4 linked regions of the Homo sapiens genome follow. The protein of the gene in region 2 interacts with the protein of the main gene of each other region in a biochemical or structural test. Each region holds a gene or a part of one and is shown on either strand. Other genes may lie near its edges. The genes, in order: SHKBP1, CUL3, KLHL6 and HSF2.

The links.
Region 1: the proteins of CUL3 (region 2) and SHKBP1 form a complex in vitro, tested with the Homo sapiens proteins (one study listed by BioGRID).
Region 3: the proteins of CUL3 (region 2) and KLHL6 form a complex in vitro, tested with the Homo sapiens proteins (one study listed by BioGRID).
Region 4: the proteins of CUL3 (region 2) and HSF2 form a complex in vitro, tested with the Homo sapiens proteins (one study listed by BioGRID).

The regions. Positions count from the first base shown.
Region 1 is NC_000019.10:40,585,184-40,592,275, reverse strand, and holds the end of SHKBP1 (SH3KBP1-binding protein 1), read right to left. Parts: intron 5,533-7,092; coding exon of another isoform or gene 5,503-5,532; coding exon 5,332-5,502; intron 3,653-5,331; coding exon 3,497-3,652; intron 3,195-3,496; coding exon 3,098-3,194; intron 2,033-3,097; coding exon 1,854-2,032; intron 1,547-1,853; coding exon 1,423-1,546; intron 1,301-1,422; coding exon 1,069-1,300; 3' UTR 879-1,068; downstream 1-878.
Region 2 is NC_000002.12:224,577,322-224,585,400, forward strand, and holds the start of CUL3 (cullin-3), read right to left. Parts: upstream 8,043-8,079; 5' UTR 7,689-8,042; coding exon 7,623-7,688; intron 1-7,622. UniProt on the Homo sapiens protein: Core component of multiple cullin-RING-based BCR (BTB-CUL3-RBX1) E3 ubiquitin-protein ligase complexes which mediate the ubiquitination and subsequent proteasomal degradation of target proteins.
Region 3 is NC_000003.12:183,547,345-183,555,423, reverse strand, and holds part of KLHL6 (kelch-like protein 6), read left to right. Parts: coding exon 1-63; intron 64-3,097; exon of another isoform or gene 3,098-3,371; intron 3,372-6,460; exon of another isoform or gene 6,461-6,689; intron 6,690-8,079. UniProt on the Homo sapiens protein: Involved in B-lymphocyte antigen receptor signaling and germinal center formation.
Region 4 is NC_000006.12:122,404,345-122,412,423, forward strand, and holds part of HSF2 (heat shock factor protein 2), read left to right. Parts: intron 1-8,028; coding exon 8,029-8,079. UniProt on the Homo sapiens protein: DNA-binding protein that specifically binds heat shock promoter elements (HSE) and activates transcription. In higher eukaryotes, HSF is unable to bind to the HSE unless the cells are heat shocked.

The sequences.
Region 1 (7,092 bases), on a different chromosome or scaffold from region 2:
ACAGAGAGAAAACCTGATTGAAGATGTATTCCAGAGGTAAGTGAAGTTAGGAGATAAAAAGATATTCTGGGCCGGACACAGTGGCTCTCGCCTGTAATCCCAGCACTTTGGGAGGCTGAGGTGGGCAGATCACCTGAGGTCAGGAGTTCGAGACCAGCCTGGCCAATATGGTGAAACTCTGTCTCTACTAAAAATAAAAAAATTAGCTGGGCATGGTGGTGCACACCTGTAATCCCAGCTACTCGGGAGGCTGATGCAGGAGGATTGCGATTGCTTGAACCCGGGAGGTGGAGGTTGCAGTGAGCTGAGATCATACCACTACACTCCAGCCTGGATGACAGAGTGAGACTTTAAAAAAGAAAAGAAAAAAGAAAAAAAGATATTCTGAATTAGTGTTTGAAGCCCCGGATCCAGCCATGCCTGAAGGCAGAGTAAAAGCCAACACATTCCTCCCCTGCAACACCTTTTTTGTTTTGTTTTGTTTTTGAGACAGGATCTCACTCTGTCACTCAGGCTGGAGTGCAGTGGTGTGATCATGGCTCACTGTAGCCTTGGCCTCCTAGGCTCAAGCGATCCTCCCACCTCAGCCTCCCAAGAAGCTGGGACCACAGGCATGCACCACCATGCCTGCTTAATTTTTGTATTTTTTTGTAGAGATGGGGTTTTGTTATGTTGCCCAGGCTAGTCTGAAACTTCTGAGCACAAGCAAACTGGCCTCCCAAAGTGCCAGGATTATAGATGTGAGCCACCATGCCTGGCCTCCCTTTGCTTAAACAAGAGAGGTAGATGTTCCTGATTTTGCATATATCGGGTTGGGTCCCACATCTTCCCCACCCCTTTCCTGGGGAGTCCCAAACCTGCTAAGAATAAGCAAGATGTTGGCAGTGAGGACTTTATTGGGGAGGGTGACTTTGGCTTCCAGAAAAGAGGGAAGGTGGGGACCTAGTAACAATAACCATTTATTCCAAGGAGGCCCTGGCCCTGAACCCGGGGTTCCCACAGGAATCAGGGAGGCACCTGAGTCCCCCAGGACCAGGGCATCCCAAGGCATCATGGCAGCTGCGTTGTTCAAAAGGAAGTTTCATTGAGCTTCATCTTGGGAGGTGTGAGGGGAGTGCCGAGACCGCTGGAGGGCCACGGGGCTGGTGTGGGTGGCCGTCGGAGGTCTGGCCCACTCCGCACCAGTTCCTGGCAGCGTTCCACAAAGCTGCCCCCACCACGGCGCCGGGCCTCAGCCTGCGGGGGGCTTGGGCTCCCACGGTGGCCAGACAAGGAGGTGTTGCTGGAGGCTGAGTGGAGGCTGAGGAAGTAAGGACAGTAAGTGCACGTCATCACGGGGCAGCTGGGCCACTCTGTCCCCGGGAACACCATGCTGTCCCCTCTCCCCTCATTGCACAGAAGGGGCAGTGGAGTTGTGGCTACCTGGTGAGGGAGATGCGGGGTGAGGGGCTGGGGAGACAGCCCCATGAGGGAGCTGAAGGAGCCGGCGGGGCCAGCTCACAGTGTTCCAGCTGTTCCATCAGCTCTTGCTCCGTCAGGCCACCTGCTGGGGGGCACGGAAGCAGGGTCAGGGGGCAAGACAGGGGTCATAGGGCAAGGGCCTGGGTTGCATTGCAGTGCAAGCACCGAGGGTCAGGACAGGAGAGAGGAAGCAGAGATCAATGCATGGGGGCCAGAGGCTGAGACAGGGGTTGAAAAACAAGGGCAGGAAGGGATGGGGAGCAGAGAGGGGGTCAAAGGAAAAGGGGTCAGAGGGCAAGGGCCTGGGAGAGAGATCAAGCAGTTGGCAGTGGAGAGTGGTTCTGGGTGAGGCTGTGGGGCTTGGGACGGGATTGGGGTGGGGCAGGGAGTACCAGGGGCCTGGCCGAGGCCGTCCATGGCGGTGGTTAGGTCCCACATGGCCAAGCTGCCGTTGGCCTGGCCAGTGAGCAGGTAGCGCCGGGGCCGAGAGCCGAGCCGCCGGGAGCCCTCGCACTCCAGCACTGTGAAGGCTGTCGTGGGTGAGCCGTCCACGGAGCGCACGGAGCACACCCTGGGGGGTGCAGTGGGGGAGGTGGTCACCCTCGCTTTCTCACCCTTCCTCGTCCCAGTCCCCACCACTGTGGCTGCAGTTCCTGCCTCTCCAGGGGCCATCCCAATCTTTATCCATCCCTAGCCTGCTTTTGAGTTCCAGTCCCAAGGGTCCAGCAGCTCTTGGACACCGCAGCCCCAAACACCCAGGGAGTCTCCCAGAGCTTCTGCTCTTCCCTGCTCCCACTGCAGGGAAGACCTGAGGCCCGTCCCAGCTGCTCCCCCACCTCCTATCAGCCTCCTGGCCTCCTCCCTGGGCTCCTGGCCTCCCATCAAGCCTCCTTTCATCCCCCATGCAGTGGCCACGGCTCCCCGCACAGGACAAAGCCTCAGCCCTTCCACAGCCTGACAAGGCCCGCCCGCATCTGCACCCCATCCTCACCTCCTGTTCTGTGCTCCAGCCCAGGAGCCCACGTGTCCTTCCCATGTGACCCTATTTGGCCCTTCTCAGCCTCTGCACATACAGTTCCCTCAGGCTGGGGCCCCCTTCCCCTGCCTTCTTTCTTCTGCTCCTTCCTACTTGTCCTCTAGGTCTCTGCTCAGAGTCCCTTCATCCAGAACATCCTCCGAGGCCCCTTTCCCAGCTGAAGCAAGGCTCCTACAGCTCCCTGGGTCTCCTCCATCCCATCCCGACCCCTGCCCCTGGTCCCCCTATCCCACCCCAACCCCTCCCCCTGGTCCCCCCATCCCACCCCGACCTCTCCCCCTGGGCCCCCATCCCACCCCTCCCCCTCCGCCTGGGCCCCCCATCCCACCCTGACCCCACCCCCTGTGCCTTCAACCTGGCCCTGCCTGCACTGGGCTGGCACTGCGCCAGGTCAGTCCCACCAACACCTGTCACACCTTTGATACCAGAAGACAAACCTACCAGGCCTGTCCTCCCTCCCAGCCTTTGCTCCTTCAATGCTCCTTGGCTGGGACCCCTTTCTGGCCTCAGTGATCTGGCTAGCATCTTGCCTTCTCCCCTGACCTCCCTCCCTGTTGGACAGGACTGTCCTCCCTCCCTGTTGGACAGGACTGTCCTCACCGCTGCCCAGTAGATGAGAGACGCACGAAGAGCTGGCTGGCACTGGGCACCACCTTCTGGATGAACACTTGCTGGTCGTCCCGCTCACCGTAGGGGCCTGGGCCAGGCAGGGGCAGGGGTCAGGGCCAGCTGGGATTCCCTCAGCCTCAGACTTCCTTCCCCACTGATGAAACCCACCACCCCAAGACCCCAGTCCCATCCCCAGGTTGTTAGAGTTGGGCAGGGCCAGAGAGGGCTGGGGGGTTGTGGCAGTCAGTGGAGCTCAGGTGCCTCAAGGATCAGGACACCCCAATCGTTGCAGGCTCCTGGGTCAGGTGGCCGCAAGTGGGAATCAGCGGAGGTCAACAGGGGTCAGGTAAGGGGGTCAGTGGGGTGGGAAGGCCAGGAGCCAGTAGGCACCAATGTCATTGCCAGCACTGCAGCCGCCATGCCCATCTGCCGACTCCAGAGCCAGGATCTTAAAGGAAGCGAGTGGGGTGGAGCCGGGCTGGGTGGAAATCATGCCGCGGAAGCGAGTCACAGACCATGTCCGCACGTGGTTGTTGTCGGCACAGACTGAGGGGCACAAGGAGAGCAGGAAGTCAGGCCTGGTGCAGGCATCAATGCTGCCTGCCCGTCCAGAGCCTCAGGACAGCCCCGTTTCAGGAGGGTCAGCCCTTGCTGAGTTCTTCCCTTTCAGAGAATCCTTTCCTCCCCAGAATTCCAAATGTTAAAAACCCTGTTGCCTCTGCCTCCAAAACTGTTCCAGAGCCTGATCTCACCTTGCCCTATCCTCTGCCCCACACCGGTCCTGGTCCATTTCGTCACCTGCCTGGACCGTATCAGCACGCCCCTCCCAGAGGTCCCTGCTCCTGTCCTATCCCAGTAGTGTGCTCCCACGGGCAGCCAGGTGGAGCCTGTGAACACCTGAAGCTAGTCATGTCCCTCCCCTGCTCGGAGCCCTCTGTGGCTCCTGCCCTTGTCACCTCCATACCCTCATCTCCTCCCATTCTCCCCCTCATTTACTCTGTTCCAGGCACAAGTGGCTCCCTGCACTTCCTCAGGCATCCTCTCACCTCAGAGCCTTTGCAATGCCTGTTCCCTCGGCCTGAATGCTTGTCCCTACCAATCTGCACTGCTCATTCTGTTATTTCTGCTCAAAGGTCCTTCCTCAGGCCTTCCCTGAATGACCCCTCTCCAGCGACTTGACACTCTCTAGCCACACACAGCTTCATGTTTATTCATAGCCCTTATCATTGCCTGGTGTTGATTTAGATTATTTTATTAATATTTTATGAGATAGAGTCTTGCTTTGTTGCCTGGGCTGGAGTGCAGGGGTGCAATCATAGCTGATTGCAGCCCCTGACTCTTGGGCTCAAGTGATCCCTCCACCTCAGCCTCCCAAGAAGCTGGGACCCCAGGTGCATGCCACCATACTTGGCTAATTTTTTAAAAATTTTTTGTAGAAACAATGTCTCACTTTGTTGTCCAGGTTGGTCTCACACTCCTAGCCTCAAGCAATCCTCCCACCTTGGCCTCCCAAAGTGCTGGGATTATAGGCATGAGCCACAGTGCCCAGCCTGATTTGCATTTTTATCTATTTATTTTTGAGATGGAGTCTCGCTCTGTTGCCTAGGCTGGAGTGCAGTAGCATGATCTGGGCTCTCTGCAATCTCCGCCTCCCAGGTTCAAGCAATTCTCCTCCCTCGGCCTCCCGAGTAGCGGGGATTACAGGCACGTGCCACCACACCTGGCTAATTTTTTATATTTTTGGTAGAGGTGGGGTTTCACCATGTTGGCCAGGCTGGTCTCGAACTCCTGACCTCAAGTAATCTACCCGCCTTGGCCTCCCAAAGTTCTGGGATTATAGGTGTGAGCCACCGCAGCTGGCCATTGATGTCCATTTTTATAGATTTATTGTCTGCCATCGCTGCTAGAATGTCAGCTCCACGAGGGCAGGGACTTGGCCTGTCTTGTTCATCACTGTATCCCCTATGCCTGGCACATGGTGGGTGCCCCGTAAATCGTTGCTGAATTGATGGATTCCCAAACACACACAGATTCACTCTTCCCCAGACTGATCCCCTATGGTATTCTCTCACTTCTGCAATTACAGTCCCATCCCAGGTCAATCCTCTCCGCCAGAGCTCTCTTCCTACACAATGTCCCTCCCCAGTGGAAATTCTCATCCTCCTGTCTCCACACTCCCATCTGAGCTGTCTCTCCCAGCACTGGAGCACCCCACAGAGGCTCACCTGAGATGAGGTGCTTCTCCGACAGCATGATCTTGGTGACAGGGCTGCGGTGCACAGTGAAGGTCTGGAAGAGCTGAGGCCCCGAGCCCACAGTCTCCGGGTGCTGCACGATGACCCGCACGCCCCCTGAGCTGGTGCCATAGGCGATCTCGATCCAGTTCCCACTGTCACCTGGTGAGGGGCCAAGGATGAGGAGAGGGCCTGGGCCACAGAGACAGAAACCAGGGCAGGGAGAAAGAAACAGGCACAGAACAGAGACACAGTCAGAAAGCAAGGAGAGGCCGGGCACGGTGGCTCACGCCGTAATCCCATCACTTTGGGAAGCTGAGGCGGGTGGATCGCTTGAGGTCAGGCGTTCAAGACCAGCCTGGCCAACGTGCTGAAACCCTGTCTCTAGTAAAAATACAAAAATTAGCTGGTGGTGGTAGTACGCACCTGTAATCCCAGCTACTCAGAAGGCTGAGGCATGAGAATTGCTTGAACCCAGGAGGCAGAGGTTGCAATGAGCCAAGACCACGCCACTGCACTCCAGCCTGCATGACAGAATGTGACTCTGTCTCAAAAAAAAAAAAAGAAAGAAAGAAAGAAAGAGACACAGAACAGAGACACAGTCAGAAAGCAAGGAGAGAGGGAAGGACACAAAAAGATGGTGATGAGATGTGGGAAATGGAGGAACAGGGAGACAAAGGCACAGGTCAAAGGAGGAGAGGCCCAGAGACAGAAATTGTAACAGTGAAACAGCAAATAAGAGAGGAAAGAGAAAGTAAAACAGAGAACAGAGGCCGAGGCAGGAAGATTGCTTGAGGCCAGGCGTTTGAGGCCAGCCTGGGCAACATAGTGAGACCCTCATCTCTACAAAAGATTTTTAAAAAACTAGTTGGGTGTGATGGCATTCACCTATGATCCCAGCTACTCAAGAGGCTGAAGTAGGAGGATCACTTGAGCCCAGGGGGTGAGGCTGCAGTGAGCTATGATTGCGCCACTGCACTCCAGCCTAGGTGACGAAGCGAGACTGTCTCAAAAAACAAAGAAAAATGACATAATAGTGGCATGTGGCGGGAAGGGAGATGAGGAGGAAATGAGTAAGTAAGTGAAATAAGAAAGAGGCCGGGTGCAGCAGCCCATGCCTGTAATTCCAGCACTTTGGGAGACGACGAGAGGAGAATCCCAGGAGTTCAAAACTTGCTTAGCCAACGTGGCAAAACCCTGCCTCTACTAAAAACACAAAAATTAGCTGGGCATGGTGGCAGGCACCCGTAATCCCAGCTACTTGGGAGGCTGAGTCTGGAGAATTGCTTGAACCCAGGAGGCAGAGGTTGTAGTGAGCTGAGATTGCGCCATTGCACTCCAGCCTGGGTTGAATGACAGAGCGATACTCTGTCTCAGGAAAAGACAAAAAAAAAAAAAAAGAAAGAAAGAAAAAAAAGAAATAAGAAAAGGGCCTTACAAAGAAGAAAGGTGATAATGTGTCATGAAGTTAGGTGTATTATTAACTTATTTCTGCTTTAAAAAAAAAAGAAAAGCAGCAGCAGCAGCTATGGCCAAGCACAGTGACTCAAGTCTGTATTTCCAGCACTTTGGAGGCCAAAGTGTGAGGATCACTTGAGCCCAGGAGTTCAAGAGTAGCCTGGGCAACATGGCAAAACCCTGTCTCTACAAAAAAATACAAAAATTAGACAGGTGTGGTGATGCATGCCTGTGGTTCTGCTGTTCAGGAGGTTGAGGTAGAAGAATCGCTTGAGCCCGAGTGGCGGAGGTGGC
Region 2 (8,079 bases):
ACTGTAGGAGGATGAGGCAGACGGATCACGAGGTCAGGAGATCGAGATCATCCTGGCTAACACGGTGAAACCCCGTCTCTACTAAAAATACAAAAAAATTAGCCAGGCGTGGTGGCAGGCACCTGTAGTCCCAGCTACCAGGGAGGCTGAGGCAGGAGAATGGCGTGAACCCGGGAGGTGGAGCTTGCACTGAGCTGAGATCACGCCACTGCACTCCAGCCTGGGTGACAGAGCGGAGACTCTGTCTCAAAAAAAAAAAAAAAGGTGATGCAGCTAGAAAGACATGGAGCTGGTATTCAAGCCCACACTCTTAACTACTATGCTTTCAGTCTCTTTACTTTTTAGTCACATCCCTATATTCATATGTTGAATACTCCAGTGCAAAAGTAAATGAAAATTCTCTACAGACTATTCATAGTTTTATTCTCCTAAGTAGTCAAAGAAATGCAAATTAAAGCATTAAAGTACTATTTTTTCACCTATAAAATTAAACATACATTATGCTGGGTAAGATACTGCTACACAGAAGTTAAACGGATACAACCTTGAGAAATATAATTAATTCTTAAGAGTGCTCACTTTAGAGCCAGATTGCTTGGGTCAGAATCCTAGTTCTGCCACTTGGAAGAATACCTTAAGCAAATTATTTAGCCTCTCAAAGCCTCATTTGTAGAACAGATAATAGTAGTATTCAATAGAGTTTGCTCAAATGATTAAGTTTAGATATGCAGAGTACATGATAAGCATTTAGAAAGTGTTAGCTATTATTATTACCCTTATGGAGGTCAATTAGGTAATATATTTCAGTTACGTGCAGCCCAATAATTCCATAATCATAGATGGACTCAAATATTTATGTGTCTAAATAGTCATAGTTGCAATCTTTTTTAACAGAAAAAATATGGACTCCCTGGAATCAACCAAAATATTTGGCAATAGGGAAATGGTTAAGCAAACTGAAGTATGATAGTCATTAAAAACTATGTTTTCAAAAATTTACAGTAAGAAATTTTTTAACAGCAGCATATACAATGATTATCTTACCTTAATTTTACTGTCTGTTCAGCCAACAATATGAAATTAAAATTCCAAAAACACATGAAAATGTTAATGTTGTTTGTTTCCAAGTGGTAGGATTACAGGTGATTTTTTTTATTTCCCTACTTGTACATTTAGATAATTATCAATTTTTCTACCAGGAATATACATCATTGTTATAATTAGAAAAGCTACTAAAATAAATTCATTGCTTTAACAGACTATGGTTGAATAGTTTTCACAAGACACTGATAGACTAATAACTAATTGTAATTCATGTGTTAACTCAGTGATTTGTTCTTACTAGTAATACCTTTACATTCTGTTGACCTTACAATGGGCTAACAAGAACTACTTTTAAAAAAAAGTTGCATTATTTAAAACTACAAATTGTCTAGTAACTTTTATATAAACCTAACAGGACTACTAAAGACCATCCATGTACTCTGGAATGAAAATAACAAAAAATTCCCTTTAAAGTCCCCCAATGTATAATATAAAAAAAAGGCATACCACTTTTTCTAGCCTTAATCATATAATCTTCCTGAACTGGACAAATGCTTTCATCCCTTAACTTCATTTAATGAATGATGTACAAACAAATGAAGCATTCTCTAATTTGTTTGAATCAAGTTTGTGATTTATGTATTACTTAAAAAGCCAAATTTTTACATTATATTTCATATTACTTAAATAGTTTCTAATTCAATATTGGTACTAATAATTTTCCAGGTTCCTCTGAACTGCTATCTAGAAAGACAAGACAAAATAAATACTTTGTTAATAACAACCGTATGCTTTTATTTTTCTAACTTCTAAAGTCATAGTAGTACTAACAGCTATGACAATACTGGCTGTCCCAAAACTATAAACAGTATTAGTTTAAGTATAAGTAACACTTTAATGAATCTGTTTCACTTTGTTTCATAACATGAAAAATGAAAAGCAAATTTATAATTAATTCTCTGCTCAGTGTGATCTGCAAGACTACCATCCAGCTTTCCTCTATGTACCAGTCCAGGTAGTACTATGCCAACAACTACCTTCCCTAAGAAAGAGAAACCTACTATGAAGATGAAAGCTGTTCCCTCAAATCTGGCAAACATTTCTGTAGCTCGAAGAAAAGAAAAAAAAAAAAAGATTAACTGTACCCATCTGTCCTTAAGACTCTTCCTGTTCTTAAGTATATCACAAATGAACATAAAACTCCTTCACTAATGTGAGTCGCCCTGTATGTTCCAGCTAACAATCACTTCCAAACAGTTGCTGTCCATGCTACACAAGTGGAGTTCCTCTAGCATTAGGGAGTGGGCATTTTATCATAACACTCTTTCTCCTGATGAGTTAGCAAGCTTTTATAAACTAACTGAAGCTACTTCCAGGACCCCAGGGTAGAGATCTTAAGAGCCTGATTACATTCTGGAGACAGTCACCTTCATAACAGGTTTCCCAAACTCTGAAGGCTAGGCCAAGAAAGGCTTTATTACCGTTTGATACAGGAAAGGACAGCATTTTCATTCAAACGTATCCTCTCCAATTCTAATCAAGCTCATCAAACCCATGTGGGCAAAACCCCAGACAGTAAAAATGGTAAGAAATGATTTTTCAAAGATAAAGATAATAAAAGGTTCACCTGAAAGCAACTAATCCTACATAGTGGAACAAAGCCCAGGAGTAAGGAAGAGACTCCCTGGGGCAGAATTATTTGATCCAGACCCACATTATTTCCAGAAGTTTCACAATTACAGCCTGCTTTCTTTAAAAAGTTTTGTGGTCCTTGTTCCTCTGCATACAAATTAAAATTTAAACATTATCAAAAAGATGTGAAATGATACATTTTGTGCAAGGCGGGAAAGCTTATAAACTGGAATAAACTTTTCCTTTGTCAACAGCTTACAAATACAGAAACGTCCTTATTGTCTTCCATCTTAAAAAGAACTTCTAGGAAAAGGTCTATTTAAAAATGCAAATTGTGCATTAAACTGTTGTGTATTATAACTTCTACAGACAATGATGAAGGTATACTTAAAATACGCACTAAGGCTGAAACGCGGTGGCTCACAGCTATAATCCCAGCACTTTGCGTAACAGCGGTGGGCTGATCACCTAAGATCAGGAGTTCAAGACCAGCCTGGCCAACATGGCGAAACCCCATCACTACTTAAAATACAAAAATTAGCCAGACGTGGTGGCGCAAACCGGTAGTCCCAGCTACTTGGGAGACTGAGACACAAGAATCGGTTGAACCCAAGAGGTGGAGGCTGCAGTGAGCCAAGATCGTGCCACTGCACTCTAGCCTGGGCGACAGAGCAAGACTCTGTCTCAAAAAAGAAAAAAAAAATGCACTCAAAACACTAAAAAGAATCTGATATTACTGATGGGAATTTATCTGGAGTAGTATCTATAAAATATCCAGTAAGTTCAATTACCACTCTATTTTGCAATGAAAACAATCTCAAAACACAATTCTATATTTTTTTACAAGTTAATTTTGTAAAACAATCTGAGATGAGTGCTTGAGATTTTTTTTTTTTTTTAAGACAAGAGTCTTGCTCTAAGGCCTAGGCTGGGGAATGAAAGAAATGGGGGCGTGGATTTTGGTCAAAGGATACAAGTTTTAAGATGAATACATTGTGGAGATCAAATGTGCAGCACAGTTAAGAACAGTTAATAATACTATATTACATATTTTACATTTGCTATGGCAGTAGATCTTACTTGTTCTCATCACACAGACATAAAAAACAGAACTATTGGCCGGGCGTGGCGGCTCACACCTGTAATCCCAGCACTTTGAGAGGCCAAGGCAGGCGGATCACGACGTCAGGAGTTCAAGACCAGCCTGACCAACATGGTGAAACCCCATCTCTACTAAAAAGACAGAAACTAGCCAGGCGTGGTGGCACACGCCTGTAATCCCAGCTACTTGGGGAGGCTGAGGCAGAAGAATCGCTCGAACCCAGGAGGCGGAGGTTGCAGTGAGCTGAAACCGTGCCACTGCACTTCAGCCTGGGTGACAGAGCGAGTTTCCATCTCAAAAAAAAAAAAAAGAGGTGATTATGTGTTAGCTTGATGGTAGTAATCATGTCAGAATGTATACATATATCAAAACATCATGTACATCTTAAACATATATAATTTTTCTTTTCTTTTTTTTTTTTTTGAGACAGTCTCACTCTGTTGCCCAGGCTGGAGTGCAGTGGCACGATCTTGGCTCACTGCAACCTCTGCCTCCCAGGTTCAAGTGATTCTCGTGCCTTAGCCTCCCGAGCAGCTGGAATTATAGGCGTGTATCACCACACCTGGCAAATTTTTGTATTTTTAGTAGAGACAGGGGTTTGCATGTTGGCCAGGCTGGTCTCCAACTCTTAACCTCAGGACCTCAGGTGATCCGCCTGCCTTGCCTCTCCCGAAGTGCTAGGATTACAGGTGTGAAGGTGTGAATCACCTTGCCCGGCCGAGTGCTTGACACTTTTGGTGAAACTACAGTTTCCCTTAAATTACAGTAAGTATACATCCAAACAACAGATGTAAAATACAATAATTTTTAAATATGTACATATGTGGAACCATAAACAATTAAGGATGTACATATGTATAACCATAAACAATTTTTTTTTTTGAGACAGAGTTTCGCTTTTGTTGCCCAGGCTGGAGTGCAATGGCGCGATCTCAGCTCACTGCAACCTCGGCCTTACAGGTTCAAGCGATTTTCCAGCCTTAGCTTCCCAAGTAGCTAGGTTTACAGGCATCCGCCACCACGCCCCGCTAATTTTTTGTATTTTAAGTAGAGATGGGATTTCACCATGTTGGCCCGGCTGGTCTCAAAGCTCCTGACCTCAGGTGATCCACCTGCCTCGGCCTCCCAAAGTGCTGGGATCACAGGCGTGAGCCACTGCGCCCGGCCATATTTTTTCTTTACGGAACACTAGGTATTAACTACTTTTGACTAGCAACTCACGCAGTCTGTAGTTATGAACAAGACTGCCAATCTGGAAGACAGGAATTTTGAAGGTCTATAAGCACACGGTTAGTAAGATAAATCTATGAAACACCCTAACACTGAGATATACATCTATCTGTAACAAAGGGCCATAAACTGTAATAGTTCTTTCCAATGGGAATCACTTAGGAATGTTATTAATACTTATTAAACAGTAATGAAAAATTCTTTTAGAAATCAGCAGCTATTAACTACTGAATACCAAAACTAGTCACTTACTTCATGTAAGGTTTTCAGAAAAACCTGCAAAAGTTATAGACAGAATGGATCCAAATTAGCTCATAATCATAACGAAGCTAACAAAAAAAAATTCAGTTCCAGTACTATGTGGTAACGTATCACACAACGTTATTATACTGGTCAGCTAAAGGAATAATGAAATTCTCTCCCACCTCTTCTCCCCAACAATATTAGCTCCAAAAGGCAGGGATCTTGGTCTTTCTAGCTATACTGACAGACCCCCAGAACAGTGCCTGGCACATAATATTCAGTATTTGCTGAACAAATTAAATGATGGCAAAACAGGTAAGAGCAGGGAAACCTGAAGAGGTCAAAGAGTTTAATTACACATACATTAACGTACAACTGGTCAATCAGAAGGCCATTAACTTGAGTGAGTTGATGTCAAATTTGAGTTACTCCACATTTTAGCAAAAAATCTTATTTAGAACATGAGACTTCAAGAATTGAGTAGTGTAAGGCTGCACACACTGCTAGAAAATCTGTTGTATATAGGCCTGGCGCGGTGGCTCACTCCTGTAATCCCAGCACTTTGGGAGGCCGAGGTCGGTGATCACCTGAGGTCGGGAGTTCGAGACCAGCCTGACCAACATGGAGAAACCTCGTCTCTACTAAAAATACGAAATTAGCCCGGTGTGGTGGCGCATGCCTGTAATCCCAGCTACTCAGGAGGCTTTTAACCCAGGAGGCGGAGGTTGCGGTTAGCTGAGATCACGCCATTGTACTCCAGCCTGGGCAACAGGAGCGAAACTCTTGTCTCAAAAAAAAAGAAAATCTGTTGTATACAACTATTAACTTCATAAAATTCTAAGTAATTCTAAACTCTAAAGTGGTCAGAATTTAGTAGGAAAATTAATATCACTCACAAATGCATAACCCAGCTCTGCCCAATTATAAGGGAAAACATACTAGTAAGCTTCGTTAGTACTCGCTTGTCAACATTTCTCACGTTTACTTAGAAAAAAGTTTGAAACATTCAAAAAATCTTTAATTATTATCAAAACACTTATTCTCCTAAATTCCATCGTACCTATTTACACAAAGCAGAGGTTTTCGCACACTGACTTTAGTATTTATGTTCTTACAATTTCAGAATTCTGCATGAGGTGTATCCTTTTAAATTTTAGGAATTCAGAGAGGTCCTCATGTTCTCTGAAACTAAATCACTTGACTCAACTGGGGCAATCACATCAAGGTAAGTCTTTCCTCACTGCAACTGCGCTTCAGGAAAAGCATGCTTTAAAAAGTGACAACAAATCCCCCTCTTTCGCTGGTACATCATATGAAGTATTTATGAATCTAAGAAGGGAAGACCAAGATCTTTCTCTAATTTTACTTTTTAAAATCTTCTGTCCGATTGCTAGTTCGTCTGTCTTGACGTATGCCTTTTATTGTAGCGACATAGGCAAGTATGCCCAGTTCGTTAACAGTACATTTTAATTGCTTGCCACGGGGAAGCTGAACCAGATTTGACACCCAAAGTTATATCCTATATACTAAACATCGCAAGGGTACGACTCAACGTAATGCCAAAAAAGAAAAAGTTTCTGAGCAGAACACGTTTGCTGTCACTGAAAGCGATGAAACAAAGCTACTCCGCAAGGCGACTACACTCATTCTTTGGGCTCCCAAGGCTGAGAAATGGAGAACCAATTGGCCGGTTTGCTCTCTGTTGCTTCCCCCCCACCCGGCCTTCCTCCGAGTGGCGAGGCAATCCTGCACAAGAGTTTGTAAAGTGCTTAGGAAGCTTGTAGGATGAAAGACGCTATAAATACACCCAATGTTACTAGTTTATGACCACGGAGCATTCCGTGGAACCACTGTCACTGCGTCGGGGGCAGGTTGATGGCATAGACCTTCCTGGGGAGGGGGGCAGAGAGAGAGGGCAGCCCCTTCATCACCCTAAAAGCTAGGCTGGGTAAATTTTCAAAGTGTAGCGAAACCCCACGTGAAAAGTTCCACACACGCCCCACACAGGGAGGACTCCGCGGCTGCTAGCAGCGCCGGAGACTGGGCCTACAACCCCGGCAACGTGGGGAGGCGTGGGGCGGCCGAGGGGCCCCGGCCGCAGCCGACGCCCGCGGAGCGGCTGAAGGAGCAGCTCCCGGACGGGGGCGCGGCGCCAGGCCCGGGCTCCCGGCGCGGGGAACGGCCCGGGAGGGCGGCCGCGCCGGGGCCCCGCGCCGCCCGGTTGCCGGGAAGGCTCGCGCCCCGCGGCCGGCGGGCGTGGGGGAGGGGAGGCCGGGCCTGCGGCCTGTTGGGGGACTTCAGCCCGGGCCTCGCGTGCGGCTCTCGGCCCGGCCCCCGGCCCCGGGGTCCCGGACGCCGAGGAGAGACTCACCGGAAAGGCCCGGATCCGCATCTTGGTGTCCTTCCGGCTGCCCGTGCCTTTGCTCAGATTCGACATGGTGCTCGTCCCCTCCCCGGCGGCGGCTTCAGGTCGCGCTCCGCGACGCCGGTGTCACATTTAAGGCGGGCAGGCAGGCTAGGGGCGACGCTGGGGGCGGCGGCGGCGCGACCCCCGGGCAGGGCTGGGGAGCTGGCCGGCCCCTGGGCAGCCGCGGCGGCGGCGGGGGCGGCGGCGGCGGCGGCGGCGGCTCGGACTCTGGCGACTCCGATGCGGCTGGGGGGCTGCGCTGGCGCGGCGGCTCCGCGGGGTCCCCCTCACGTCCGGCTCGGCTCCCTTTATCGCGCTCCTCCGCGATGGCGGCGGCGGCGGCGACGGACAAACATCTCACTGCGCAGGCCGAACGTCGTCCTCCTCCTCCTCCTTCTCCTCCTCCGCCTGAGCGAGACGA
Region 3 (8,079 bases), on a different chromosome or scaffold from region 2:
TGTGGACATTCAGGAATTCTCCTGCCACCGCGTGGTGCTTGCCGCAGCCAGCAACTATTTCAGGTCAGCATGCCTAGGACCAGAGTCAAATTGGGTGCAAGTTGCAAGGAAGAGGTGTGTTAGTGTGAGAGCCCAATCTTGAACAGTTGGCCATGATATTTATGGTTTACATATATATTAAGGCTTGTGTGTCTACTTAAAATATAAGAAAGGACACTATCACACTTTATTTTATTATTTATTTATTTATTTATTTTTGAGACGGAGTTTTGCTTTTGTTGCCCAGGCTGGAGTGCAATGGCGCAATCTCGGTTCACCGCAACCTCTGCCTCCTGGGTTCAAGCGATTCTCCTGCCTCAGCCTCCCGAGTAGCTGGGATTTGCAGGCATGCACCACAACACCCGGATAATTTTGTATTTTCAATAGAGATGGGGTTTCTCCATGTTGGTCAGGTTGGTCTTGAACTCCCGACCTCAGGTGATCCACCCGCCTCCGCCTCCCAAAGTGCTGGCATTACAGGTGTGAGACGCTGCGCCCGGCTTATCACACTTTAAATTTTAGGATTTAGGCCACATTAAAAGAGAGATTGGCATCATTTAAAAGCAATGCTTACATTCTATAGTAAACCTTTTGTGTATATTTCCTTGTTCCAAAGGATGGAAAATTACTGAAGTCATGGGGACTTTTTTCCCCCTTGGTCTGACTGGTGTTGGAAACATAATGTTGTCTTTGTTAATCAACAGACATAGAGAAAAAGGATGTGGCCCCTCTTCTGGAGTTGTCAAATGACTTGTTACAAATTAGGGGCTTCTTTATGTGTAGGCAGTGTGGGGAAAGGGAAAGCAGTTACAAAGATGCTTTAGATGGGAGAGGCCTCTAGTTACGATAAACTGGTGATCTCATAGTGGGAAGGCCTGAAGTCAGGAGACTTGGTTCCTTCTTGACAGTGAAACTTTAGGCAAGTCACAAAGTGCTCTGAATGTCTGTTTCATCATCTGTAAGGTGAGCACAATGATGATCACCTTTCAGGGCTGTCATAATTAAACAAGAGCGTGAAAAGGGTCCTACACAGTGTCTAGCATATAGTAAGTAGATGCTCAATATATCTTTCTTGGAATTCTTTTTCTGATTCTGCTTGATTCAGCTAAGGATGACTTATTGAGTGTTTCCCATGAGCACGTCCCTGGGGTAGGAATTTTATAGCGCTGGGAACCCAGTGAATACACCTGATCCAGTGTTCTCCATATCAGCATGGACATGGGGGAACCAGCCTGCAAGGGCAATGTGGATAATGAAGAAAGTATTTGGGAACTTGAAAAGAAATACCCTTAGAATTCTTCTTAATGAGATTCTTCTTAACTCTTGATTCTGGCTGAGGAAATTGAAAACGATTAACCTATGAAAGTATTATGGAAAGCGTTTTCTTTCTTTCTTTTTTTTTTTTTTGAGGTGCTTGGGGGGAAACGTTTCTTTGTAATTCATAGAGCAGGATCAGCAGGTTGCTGTGGGACTCATTAGGTCTCCTGTGTTGATAAGACAAGGGGATATCTGGGTTTGAGGGAAGCAGTGGCTGCTGTGTGCCAGACAGACATAGTTATCTGATTTTATTTTTGTAACAGCATGATGAAGGTGGCTGATATTTCACAGATGAGGAAATGAAAACTCAGCATTATATATCTGGTCATTGCTGGAGCAGGGACTGGGTATGTTCTGGAAATCCTTGTTACTGCAATGCAAGCTGCCACTAGGTCTGGGACTTCATTCCATGGGAAGTGTGTAAAATATAAAGTGTAAACACAGCCATCAAAATGGGTTGATATAAACACATTACTTTCTCCACCAACCTTGATCACGTGCTTTCACGTTGACTGCAGCCCCTCTCAGGAGTGAGTGAAGTCAAGTTAGCTCAATGCCCTGGGGACGCACATTTAGGTTGATCCTTTTGTATCCCTTGCTATCATAAAATGCATACCTGGAAGCAGTTTTGTTAGCGGGTTGGCCTGGCTGTGGACCAGGCCCGCTGGCTGTGTGCCCTCGAGTTGATCACTGGTCTTCTCTGGTTCTTGGGTTTCTCATCCTAAATGGGAATTTGGGCTTGGGTCCTTCCAGCCCTGCTGATCCAGGATACTTAGGGAAAGTCTCTGCCGGTCGTCAGAGGAGGCAACGGCAATGAGAAGCTGGAGAACATGAGGGTGAAGGCATCTGACTGTGTATACAGAGCCTCTCCCAAAACTGCCTGGTCATGAGAGGAAATTCCTTCAATTCTTCTCTTCAGAGAAGTGACTTTTGCTTCTTCTCTTGGGATTTTCAACGTGACTTTCCTTCTACAATGAATACTGTCCTGGAGACAGGATTCTTTCTTCCGGTGCTACTATTCCTATCAACTCCTGTTTGTGGAGCGCTTACTGTGGGCCAGGCCCTGTAGCTTCTGTATCACATACTCTAGTCCACTCCACCCTCACAACAACCTGACAAGGCAGGGAGTCCTATCCCCAGCCTACCGACGGTGAGCCAAAGTCCAGAGTGTCACAGCAAATAAAAAGTAGCCAAGCTGGGATTTAGACCTAGGACTGACGTTAAATCTGACACACTCTCTCGCTTTGTGTCTGAGGTTTTGAAAGGGGTTCTTCGTATGCTCAGGTTTAGGGAGGTCAAAGAGTCTCTCTGTCTGAGAGGCTTTCTTTTTTTTTTTTTTTTTTTTTTTTTGAGACGGAGTCTCGCTCTGTCGCCCAGGCTGGAGTGCAGTGGCACAATCTCTGCTCACTGCAAACTCCGCCTCCAGGGTTCAGGCCATTCTCCTGCCTCAGCCCCCTGAGTAGCTGGGACTACAGGCACCTGCCACCACGCCCGGCTAATTTTTTGTATTTTTAGTAGAGACGGGGTTTCACTGTGTTAGCCAGGATGGTCTCCATCTCCTGACCTCGAGATCCACCCGCCTCGGCCTCCCAAAGTGCTGGGATTACAGGCGTGAGCCACCGCGCCCGACCAGTCTGTGAGGCTTTCAACACAGCTCTCTGTGTTTTGGAGGGCCTGGAAGCTGGTTATAAAATTATGTCATTTTTTTCCTTTATTCACTGAGAAAATAATTACTTTCCACTAAGGGACTGACAATAGTTTATTAAACAGTCCCCTACGGACAGACATCTGGACTATTTCTAATCCACATTTTGCTATTACAAACAATGTTGTAATGAATAACCTGAAACATGAGTTTTTTTCATATGCATTTCTTGAAGGGGGTTTGCTGAGTCAAATGCATCTGCAGTCTTAGCGGTTATTGCAACTTCTCTTTCATTGGGGTTGAATCATGTTGCGTTCCCCCACGGCATCACCAAAAGAGGGTGTCATCCAACCGCTGAAGTTTTACCAATCTGATAAATGAGAAAGAATATCTCAATTTAGCTTTAATTTGCATTTTTCTTATTTTTAGTAAGATCAAACATCTCTTCGTATGTTTAAGGGGCATCTGCAGTTCTTTTTTTGTTGAACTGTCTCTTCACTGCCTTTCTGTTTTTCATGTATTTTTTTAAAATTAAATTTTATTTTTTATTAAAGATATGCAAATAGTAAACAAAGCGTTAAATAGTATTTAAAGGCTTATAATGAAAAAACAAAAATTCCTATTTCCTCCTCCACCCTGTCTCATGCGCCAAAGGCTACCACTTTCAACTTCTATTTGTTTCTTCTGGCACTAGCTCTATATTTCTGCAAAATACACTTATACTGCTCTTTCTTGATTTTTCAGTGTTAGACATCATTCACTGATTTCAAATAAGGATTTAGTATCCTTACCTAACCTCTTACCATAAGCTTTCCTTCCCTGTAATCTTTCAACATAATGTTATCACAACAAGAGTTTACATTATTATGTTCACGAAAACCTTGTTCTCTGTTGAGCCAAATTACTCAATGATCACGTTTCTTTTCTTGTAAACCTTTTGTCTTTCCTGAAGTTATTAATTCACTCATTTTTTCATTTGCTTTGTTTTGGGGTGTCTTTTGCTCACAGGCTCACAAAAATCTTTCATATGGTCCAATGCATCAAACAATCTACCAGTTCCATTTCCTCAGAATCCTCCTGCCTTGCATCATGTTACACATGTTCCCTGGATTTGCACGCTGGCTGGGATTCACCTGCTTCTCCATCATTCCCCGGGACTGTCTGCTATGTTGAATGGAGCCTTCTCCCTTCAACCCCTATCTTTCTCTTCCCTGGTTTACCATCTTACCCTGATAAGCACATTCTCCAATAACTTCCTAAGAAAGAGTGCATGGGAAGTAATTTTTTTTTTTTTTTTTTTCTGAGACAGAGTCTTGCTCTGTCGCCCAGGCTGGAGTGCAGTGGCAGTATCTCCGCTCATTGCAAGCTCCGCCTCCTGGGTTCATGCCATTCTCCTGCCTCAGCCTCCCTAGTGGCTGGGACTACAGGCGCCCGCCACCACGCCCAGCTAATTTTTTTTTATTTTTAGTACAGACAGGATTTCACCATGTTAGCCAGGATAGTTTCAATCTCCTGACCTCGTGATCCACCCACCTTGGCCTCCCAAAGTGCTGGGATTACAGGCGTGAGCCACTGCGCCCAGCCCATAGGAAGTAAATTTTTAAGGCCTCGCATATATTTTTGTTTTGTTTTGAGACAGGGTCTTGGTCTGTTGCCCAGGCTGGAGTGCAGCAGCTTGATCATGGCTCACTGCAGCCTCCCTGGGCTCAAGCAATTCTTCCACCTCAGCCCCCCAAGTAGCTGGGACCACAGGATGTACCACCATGCCCGGCTAATTTTTGTATTTTTTTAGTAGAGATAGGGTTTCACCATGTTGGCCAGGCTGGTCTGGAACTCCTGACCTCAGGTGATCCACCCACCTCCGCCTCCCAAATTGCTGGGATTACAGCTGTGAGCCACCCACCACGCCTGGCCTTTCTTTGATTTTAAATAACATTTTGATATTTCACAATGATGTGCCTTGGAGGGGTGTGTGTGTGCGTGCGTGTGTGTGTGTGTATGTGTGTTTTACTCCAACCATTATGCTATGCATTTGATGAACCCTTTTAATCTGGAGAGTCACATCCTTTAATCCTGAACATTTCCTCATATTACTGCCTGGTAATTACATGGTTACTGTTTTCCTTGTTTACTATTTCTGGATCACTTATTCAGTAGATGTGGACTTCTAGAACAGTCTCTAGCTTTCTCATCTTCTCTCTCCTGTTGTCCATCCTCTTATCTTTCTGTTTTACTTTCTGGAAGATTTTTCTCAATTTTATCTTCCAACCTGTTGAGAATCTCAGTTTTTAACTTCCAAGACTTTTTTCTTGTTTTATGTATGAAGCTTCCTTTTTATAACATCCTGTTCTTGTTTTGTATAGGTCATATTTTCACTTAATCTCTTTGAGGTTTATATTTTTTAAAAAACCACTCTTCTGTTTTTGTTTGTTTTTTACTGTTTGTTTTCACTGTATTTTTCTCTTTGTTTTTGTCTCTTTTATTCTATTTTATGTATGTATTTATTTATTTCCTAGAGACAAGGTCTCCCTATGTTGCCCAGATAGTTTCAAACTCCTGGGCTCAAGGGATCCTCCTGACCCGGCCTCCCAAAGTGCTAGGATTACAAGCATGAGCCACCACACCTGGCCTCTGTCTTTTATTTTAGAGGCTATACTTAAATATCTGGTAGTCTTTGGATATCTGTTCCTATTTAAGAGTCAAGCACTAACATGGTGAAACCCCATCTCTACTAAAAATACAAAAAATTAGCTGGGCGTGGTGGCACATGCCTGTAGTCCCAGCTACTCGGGAGGCTGAAGCAGGAGAATTGCTTGAATCTGGGAGGCGGAGGTTGCAGTGAGCCAAGATCATGCCACTGCACTCCAGCCGGGGCAACAGAGCAAGACTCAGGTGTCCCGACCTGACGAGTGCCATTCAAGTTGGATTTAGCCATGAAATAAGTTACAAAAAACTTTACATTTATCAGCACTTTGGGAATTTTGAAACTACAGATAAGGGATTATAGATATATAATGCTGAAATATTTACTATCATATTGGTTCTGATCCACAATATTGGAAAATATTAAAAGTGGAAAATATAGGGCCTGACCCTGGTGTTACAATCATTGGCTTCACTTGAGTTCTCAAGTGTACCCACTGTGGCAGCAGCAATCCTCAACACATTTGCTGTTAGCCAGATTTTTAATACAGACCTACATGGCCTTAACTCATTCTTGTTTTTCTTGGCACTTATTCTCTTTTTTAAAATTTGTTTAAATTTTACTTTAAGTTCTGGGATACATGTGCAGAATGCGCGGGTTTGTTACATAGGTATACACGTGCCATGGTGGTTTGCTGCACCTATCAACCCATCATCTAGGTTTTAGGCCCTGAATGCATTAAGTATTTTTCCTAATGCTCTCCCTCCCCTTGTCCCCCACCCGCCGACAGGCCACGGGTTGTGTTGTTCCCCTACCTGTGTCCATGTGTTCTCATTGTTCAACTCCCACTTATGAGTGAGAACATGCGGTGTTTGGTTTTCTGTTGCTGTGTTAGTTTGCTGAGAATGATGGTTTCCAGCTTCATCCATGTCCCTGCAAAGGACATGAACTCATTCCTTTTTATGGCTGCACAGTATTCCATGGTGTATATGTTCTTGGCACTTATTCTATCACCTGGGCTTTCTGACTCTTTTCTGACATCTTACCCCATTATGGAGACAAAGCTCAGGATTACAACATCTACATGTGGCTTAAGAGTAGTCTCTTGCCCCACTTTTCTGCCATGCAGTAATTGGTTAATATGTAATAATGATTAACAAGTGCATAGATTGTGCTCACAATAACCTTCCCATTCCTGGCCTTATGCCTGATTTTTGTAGCTGGCGGGTAAAGTCCTCTCAACATAGCCTCAAGGAACCAGACCTAGAGACTGCGGTACAAGACAGGAGTGAGACAGGAATCCAGACAAGGATTCCAGGCAGCAGCATCAACAAAGGAGATTGCTAATGACTCAGCCTCAGCCTGGAAGCTTTTCTATGCATGAAGGAAGGGCCAGTCATGAGACAGGGCAGAGAAAAGCCTGATAACCCCTCCCCTCATCACTAGGACTCCCCTCCCTCTGCCAACCCTGGGAATCACAGCAGGGCTGCCCTCACAGGTCACTGTCACTTACAGAGTGTGCCATATTTTGCAGTGAGCTGGGCTTCCCAAATGGTGAGAACCAGTTTCTGGTTCTAGCCACAGTGAGGTCCCATATATTTTCAGAGCGCACTGTCTTTTCACCTTGCACACCCTGACCCTGCTTCCTTGTCTCTTTTTTAACCCTTTGATCCAGACTGATGTCCTAAGGCATGCTGGGTCCTTGCTGCTATGGGGGTCTGTCAGCTCAGCCCCCAGACATAAACTGGAATGAATGTTCCAACAGTATCCTGCCTGTGCATGTGTGTATGAGCACAAGGAGGCTCTGATTTTTACATTTCCTCCTCATTTTCAGCTTATGTAGCCTACACTAGCAAAAGAGTCTTGGGGAGCTGAGGGGTCATAGGAAATGACCTGTTAGCCACATTTCTGTTCTCTGTGAAGAGGCCTGTTTTCAGTTTAGACATCATGGGGAAACCACTCTTCCCATCAAAGTGAGCTCCCCCAAGGATGAAATGGACACCATGCTATCTACTTGATATTATGAAGACTGAATGAAATAAAAAGAATCCAGCAAAGTGCCTGAAAAAATGTAGGCCGTCCATATTCCAAACTGGGAAAAAATGCTTAATGCAAAGATTACCACGTCACGTATAAAAACAAAATACTGGAAGCAACCTAAATGTCCACAGTGAGAGAATGATTTTCATATTATGCCTCTGTTGAAATTGGTAGCAATATAATAAATAGTCATTATGAAAAGCATGGAGCACCGTAGGAAAAATATTATAATGAAAACAGGGGGCAAAGCAAGATGCAAAATTGCATGTAAACTATGGAAAGATATGCATGTGAGAAAAGGTAGACAAATAACACCAAAATGAAAACTGTTAACATTATCAGAAAGCCCCATAATCCCTTACCCAAAAATCTGGGAGCCAGATGTGCTTTGCCA
Region 4 (8,079 bases), on a different chromosome or scaffold from region 2:
CAAGTGTGGGAGGATGGGGGTAAAATCCAACTTAGATGGACCTGCAGAAAAGTTGAAAGATTGATTTTCAAGTATTTTTATTTGTATATATAAGAGAAAGAATGAGCTAAAGACTCTAAAAGAGTAGCTGGTGCATATTAAAAATTATAGATTAGCAAGCCACAAATTTCTGTTCCGAAAAATGTTTTAAAGTAATGTGGCTGAAGTATTAGATTATTAGGAATATTTTGAGTGTTCTAACAAGAGTGCCAAAATTAATTTGGAGAGTAACGACTGTTTCTACTCTTTGGACTCTTGCCAACATTTGTGGGTAAGGTTTAAGGAGAAGGTGCCTATCTTTCCCACCTCACTCAGTAGTAGTTTTCTCATCCTTGTAAAATACTTAGGGAGATTCTGTGTTGTATTGCTTGAACCTCACAGGTTTAAAAGACAGGAAGGTGAATTTTTGCACTCAAAGAAGTTATTTACTAATTTTAGAATAGAGACTGAGGGAATACAATAAGCAGAGATAGAGTGATATGAATGAATAAGGAGTGTATGTGAGAGAGAGTGAGCACAGGTATAGCAAGAGATTATTGTCATCTCCCTATTTTATATAATCAAATAGTTGAAATTCTAAAAATTCAGTTTATTTGGCCAAAGATTAATTTAGTCAGTCACAGGTATTTGTTATGAATCTGTTATGACCTAATATTGTGCTAGGTATCAGGAATTCATTCAGTAGTGAACCAAAGTGCCTACCTTTATGGAGCTTACATTGAGTGGTGGATATCAATAAATAGTAAGCAAATACAAGCTGGGTATGGTGGTGCATGTCGTAGTTCTGGGTACTGGGGAGGCTGAGTTGGGAGGATTGCTTGAGCCCAGGAGTTTGAGGCTAGCTTGGGCAACATACTGAGACCCCTGTCTCTTAAAAAAAAAAAAAAAAAAAGTAAAAGCAAGCAAAACACAATCAATATAATTTCAGTTAGTGATAAATGCCTTTAAAAAACACCAAGATAAACTGTGTGTCGGTTAAGATGCAATCATAAGTCAGAAGCCACAGGTATTTTCAAGAGGGTAAGTTTAATAGAGTTACTGACTATATCAGGGAAATTAAAGAAAATTAAAAGAATACAAGAATAGTTTTAAGAAGCAGCCACTACTGATAGGGCTGAGATAGAGTGCCCAAGTAAGAACCTTTTTTGCCAAGGCTAAGATTCTTACCTTATTGGAAGGAATATGGCCATGACTCAGTAGCAGAGCAGTCACTGGTGTTGCTCTGGTGGAACTTACTGGAAATGCATCCTTCAAAACTTGGTGGGAAATATGCCCTCTAGGTCACGGGTTGGCAAACTGTAGTCCTTTTGCCAGCTGTTTTATAAAAAAAAGTTTAAATAGAACACAGCTATGCCCAATCTATTTACATATTGTCTGTATCTGCTTTCTCACTACAAAGGTAGAGTTATGATGTTATAATCTGCAAGCCTAATTTACTATTTGTCCCTTTAAGAAAAAGTTTATAAATCCCTGTTCTGGAGTACTCTAAAAAACTGTTTATGGGGAGATATCTTGTTAGAGATACTCTGCTTTGAAACCTCCCAAGGGAGAGGAAGCACCAGTGAAAGCTGATGGTCTTTGAGTGTTGCTGACCACCATTAATATCAAGAGCTAGGCACTGGAGAAGCTGCCTCCACTGCAGAAGCTTGCCAAGGATACATGAGTCAGGAACAAGAGCTCCTTTTTCTTGTAATATCTCTCTTTTATCCCCTGCTGACAGAACTTAACATCATGGCACCTAGAAAAAGAAAGATATTTATTTAAGGAACCAAGCTCTATGCTTGTAGAGCAGACAATGAAGAATGAATTTGGAGCAATAAATTGATAACTGGCCCATAAACAGACTAGGATTTGTGAATATTTTAGGTAAGGTGATGAGGAAAGCCTCTCCAAGGAGACGATGTTTGAGGAGAGATCTAAATGATTAGAAAAGATGGGCCAAAGGGGAATGACAAAAGGTAAGGCCTTGAATGTGGCTGTTCAAGGAAGCAGGAAGGCCCATGTGATTAGAATATCTTTAGGGAATTAGGAGAGTGAGAGTAGGGAGGTAGGCAGGAGCAGATGGTATAGGGCCCTAGATCTATAGTAAGAAGATTGGAAATGAGGGGACCAGTTAGAAGACTATCACAGTTTTCCTGTATGGTATTGAAAATATTGATGGCTGAGACTAAGGTAGCAGCAGTCAAGGTATTGAGATGTAGCTTTGAAATCTTTGAAGGCAAAGCTGCAGGATTTGCTGATAAATTGATAAATTGGCTATGGTTGGAGGAACGACAATTAAAAATGATTCATAAATTTGGTTTGAACTACAGGATAAATCCATTTGCTGAGGAAAGATGTTAGAGATTCTTTTTGGCATATTAACTTTGAGATTAAAAATGGATCTCTAGTAGTATTTGAAACAACTTGAAAATTGTTTAATTTTTCTTAAATTTGACCATGCCTAGTCATATGGCCACACCTAATTTCAAAAGGGATGAGGAAGTGCAGTGCTAGAAAAAAAAACAGGAGTATTTTTGAACAGCTTGACTGACTTCCACACTCCAAAATGTCCAAGTGGAAATGTTGAATAGGTGGTTGAGTATAAGACTTTGGCATTCAGGGTGGAGTTTAGACCTTGTAACTGGTAAAGCCAGGAGACTTAATGAAATCATCTTCTGTGAAGATAGAAGGAACCAAAAGATGTATTATTCCAACATTTAGAGAGTATGAAGACAAAAGCCAGCAAAGGAGGCTGAGACGGAACAGTGAAAAAGAAGGAAAATCAAGGGAGTGAACCCACAGAAGTTAATGAAAGAAAATGGCTCAGGAAAGAGATCAACTGTGTCACATGCTGTTAGGAATATTCTTGTATATCTCTCCTGGTGTATATAAGCAAGAGTTTCTCTAAGGTCTGTACACTCATGTGACTTGCTGGGATATAGGATATGAAATGTCTAACCTCAAGATAGTGTGAATTATCTTCCAAAGAGATCACACCAGCTTATTCCGCTATTAGCCATGTATGAGATTTTCTGTTAATCTGCCTCTTCAAAACTGTGTATTAGTTATCGTTCTTACTTTTTACCAATCTAATTGATGTAAAGCATTGTCTCAATGAGGTTTTGATTTATATTTTCTTGATTATTAATGAGTTCTAAAACCTTTTCACGTTCGTTGGCCATTTGTGTTTCCTGTTCTGTGAAATGTTTGTTTTGCCATTTTTCTGTTTTTTTTTTTATTATTTGTGAGAATTCCTATATATTCTACATATTCGAGTTTATGTTTTGGCCATATCTTCCAGTTTGTGGCTTTTTACATTTTAGTTGTCTAGCACCTTTACTGAGTAGTTCTTCCTTTTCCAATGATCTATATTGCCACTTCTATCTTACGTCACAAGTACGTGTAGATATTGTCTTAATCAGTTGGGCTGCCGTAGCAAGATATCATAGACCAGGTGGCTTCAACAACAGGCGTTTATTTTTTACAGTTCTGGAGGTGGAGAAGTCCAAGATGAAGGCAGTGGCCATTTCAGTTCCTGTGTTAGAGCTTTCTCTGCTTTGCAGACAGCTGCCTTCTCTCTGTGTCTTCCCAATGGCAGAGAGAGAGAGAGAGAGAGAGAGAGTGTGTTCTGGTCTCTCTTATCTTATAAGGACACCAACCTAACCTGGGGGGTCCTATCTTCATTACCTCCTCTGAACCTAATTACCTCCCAAAGGCTCTAACTCCAAATACCATCATATCAGGGGCAAGGGTTTCAACATAGAATTTTGGGGGACACAAACATTCAGTGGTTTTGTTTCTGGAGTCTTTATGCCATTCCATTGGACAATTTATCCTGTGCCTGTCTTCTGCTGTCTTAATTACTGTAGCTTCAGAAAAAGTCTTTTGGTAGGGTAATCTATCCTTCAGGAGTGCCTTAAGTATTTTTGGTCTTTAGCTCTTCCACATATGTTTTAAAATCAAGTTCCATAAAAAAAAAAAAAGCCTTTTGGATTTTTGCTGCAATTGGATCAAAACTATATAAATCAGATTAGGGAAAATCGATATCTCTGTGTTGTGTATTCTCATGACAAGGCATATTTCTAAATTCATTTTGTTGATTTATGTTTGCTATTAGGCCTTGTGGATCTTTGTTCATTTTCTTCCTGGATATCTTATATATGTTGTAAATGGTGTTCTTGACTTAAAAATAGATTTCTAGCTGTTGCTGGTAATTAGAAATACAAGTAATTTTTGTATATTGATAATAAATCAGTGAGCAAATCATTTTACTGATTTCAGTTTTCTGAGTACACCCATAGTATCTGTGATTGACATTTATTTTCTTCCTTTCAGACCTTTATGCCTTCCGTTTTTCTTTTGGCAGTAACTAAGAGTGAGTAGAAGCAATTATCATGGCATTCTGGCTTTGTTCTTAATTTTTAAAGGGAATGTTTTAATGTTTCCCCCTTACTAGCTGTTAGAATGAGAGTTTTTAACTTCATTTTTTTTTTTTTTTTGACATCAAATGTTGTCGGGTGACTTAGTGAGGAAGGGACTTGGTAGAATGGAAGACACAAGAAAAGATTGACTTCCGGGGAAACAGGAAATGGGTTTAGAACATACTGAGTTAAAGAACATAGTGTAAAAAATGTTAACATTTTAAATTGAAGTGTGTAATTTGAGATGATCAGGGACAGAGCTGTAGATGTGTTTATTATAAAATAAAGTCAATAATAAGATACCCTACTGTGGATGAATTCTAAGGAAAGAATATGAATGGTGCCACGATTAAGGATAAAAACCTGGAAAATACAGCTACCTCTTATTTGATAGGTGGAAGAAAATTGAAAGGAAATATAAGAGATAAGAGACTCAACAGTGTTTAGCATCAAAGCCCAGAGAGTCGAACATTTAAGGAGGAGATTGTTAGTTGTACCAAATGAAATGCCACAGAGAGGTGTAGGAAGATCAGGACTGAAAAGAGGGCATTGAATTTGATATTTGACATTTTAGAAATCTGGTTTCAGTCGAGTGAGGGAACCAAAAGCAGTTTTCAGTGAGAGTAAGTGGATGGTCCTGAATTGGAGAAGGGGGGTTTAAAATACCTGCTTGTTAAATTTTGCAGTTAAGGAAAAGACAGATGGGTAGATTGAAAAAGAAGGTATAAGAGGGAAAGTTCTTTTAAGATAGGAAAAGACGTATGCATTTTAAGCATTTTAATTTTGATAATTACCTAGTTGCCAATACTGGTTATTGTCAAGGGTTGTAAATTTAATCTAATAAGGGAAAATCATTATTTGTTTTGCTCTACATTCTTCATTTATGAGTCTGGGTCTCTTCTAAATTTCACAATGTGTTTTTCATCAAAATTGTGTTTCTGTTAGGAAGAAAGTAGAGGAGAGTAGAGATAGAGTAGGAAGCTAGCAGTCTCCATGGATAAATTTATATTTTATCTATATGTCTTCTGGGTTTATTATGTCATGTCTCCAAAAGCTTGCTTGTAAAGAGTAAGATGACATCGAGCTCTTATTTTTCTTCCCAAATGGAAAATTTCTTAATCCTTTTCTTTCCTGATTATCCCCCCATTTGAATGCCATCTTGACTTACTACCTGGTAAATTCTCAGATAGATTTGCTGGTTCATCTGTCCTCTCTAGTCAGTCCATTCATCTATGTAATCACTTCTTCTTTTGTACTAAATTGTTAACACTATAATTTTATAATCTGTATTGGGTAGGGTTAAAATACTCCTCCCCATTGTTCTCAATATTTTCTTTCCTGTTGTTATGTAATTATTTTTACAAATGAACTTATGTACCTAACATTTGGTTATGATAGCATCAATTCATCTTTACTCCACAAATCATTTTTTTAATTAAGACAGAATTTAATGTATTGGTTAATTTAGAGAGAATTGACACCTTTACAATACTGCATTTGTCTTCCTTTTGTATTTCTATAGTTTTAATATTTTTAAAGTTCCTGTATATTTTTAAATTTTATTTTTAGATACTTAACATTTTTCTATTATTATTGGGATATTTTATTCCATTTTAGTTTCTAATTTTTTTAATTGTGGTAAAATATACATAACATAAAATTAACCATTTTAAGTGCATTAAGTTAGATTCACATTGTTAGGCAACCATTACCACCATCCATCTCCAGAACAATTTTTATCTTTCCACACTGAAACTTTATACCCATTTCACAATAACTTCTAACTCCTTCCTCCCCGCAGCCCCTGACAACCACCATTCTACTTTTTGTCTCTGAAATTGGCTATTATGGAAACTTCATATAAGGGGAATTGTACAGTATTTGTTCTTTTGTGACTGGCTTATTTCACAGCATAATGTTTTCAAAGTTCTTTTCATGTTGTAGCTTGTGAGAATTTCCTTTTTTAGGTGAAATAATATTTCATTGCATGTATATACCATACTTTATCCATATATATTTCACCATGTGTTGGTGGATACTGAAGTTACTTCTACCTTTTGCCTGTTGTGAAAAATGCTACTGTGAACATGGGGTACAAATATCTGTTCAAGTCGTTGCTTTTATGGTTTTTTTTGTTTTGTTTTTTTGTTGTTGTTTTTGGGTTTTTTTTTTTTTTTTGAGTATATACCTAGGAATGGAATTGCTGGATTATATGTTCTTTGTTTAATTTTTAAAGGAACTATCATAGTGTTTTCCACAGCAACCACACTATTTTAACATTCCCACCAATAATGCACCAATATTCCAATTTCTCCACTTCCTTGTGAACACTTGTTTTATGCGTTTTTGATAATAGCCATTCTAATGGGTGTGCAGTGGTATATTGTTTTAGTTTTGATTTTCATTTCCCTAATGATTTGTGTTACTGACCATCTTTTTATTTGCTTATTGGAAGTTTGTATATCTTCTTTGAAGAAATATCTACTCACATCCTTGCTCGTTTTTTATCGGGTTGTTTGGGTTTTTTTTGTCTTTTGTTCTTTTTGAATTTTAAGAGTTATGTCTATGTTCTGGATATTAACTCCTGAGGTATATGATTTGCACTTTCTTCTTTCCATTCTGAGGGTTGCCTTTTCAGTCTGTTGGTAGTCTTTAGATTTGATGTAGTTCCATTTGTCTATTTTTGCTTTTGTTGCCTGTACTTTTAGTGTTACATTTAATAAATCATTGCCAAGTCTAATGTCATGCTCTACTATTGTTAAAAGTTTCTTTAGCTCTTGTGTTTAGGTCTTTGATTGATTTGAAGTTAGTTTTTATATATGTTATCAGATAAGGGTCTAACTTCATTTTTTTGTATGTAGATATCCAGTTTTCCCAGCACCATTTGTTGAAAAGACTGTCCTTTTTTTATTGAATGGTCTTGACACTGTTGTCAAAAATCCTTTGGCAGGGTTTATTTCTGGGCTGTCTATTTTATTTCATTGATCTATATGTTTGTCAGTATGCCAGTACCATGCTACTTTGATTACTTTATTTTTGTAGTGTTTCCAGGTGTTTGTTTTTTGTAGAGAAAAACACTAGTGACTTTTAATATTAATTTAGTAACCACGTATCTTACTGAATTCTTAAAGGGTTTTTAAATTGATTTTACAAAGATACAATTATGTCTACTATGTCTACTGCAAATAATTATAAAATGGTACTTCCTCTCAAAATCTTTTTTTTTTATTTTGGTCTTAATTGCACTAGTTTTAAAACAATGTTAATTATGCTGTCTACATAATTGTATTTCATTTTCTCATTGCTGGTTTAATGGAAGTTCTAATATTTCACCATAGAGTGTGATGTGGCATTTGGTTTGAGATATGTTCCTAAACTTTTGAGGTTGACATCAAAAAGCTTAGTTGCAATTTGTTGCTTAATTGCAATTTTGTTTCTTGTTCCTGTTGTCAAGAATAGAATGTTGGTCTGAAGACATCAAGGAGGGACTGGACTACTCAAGACAGTTGTGGGATGTATAAATATATCACCATGTGTCATAGGAACTTAACTAATTTACTTTTTCTTTTTTTTTTTCCCCTTGCAGAATGGCCAAAGTTTTCTGGTCTTGGATGAGCAACGATTTGCAAAAGAAATT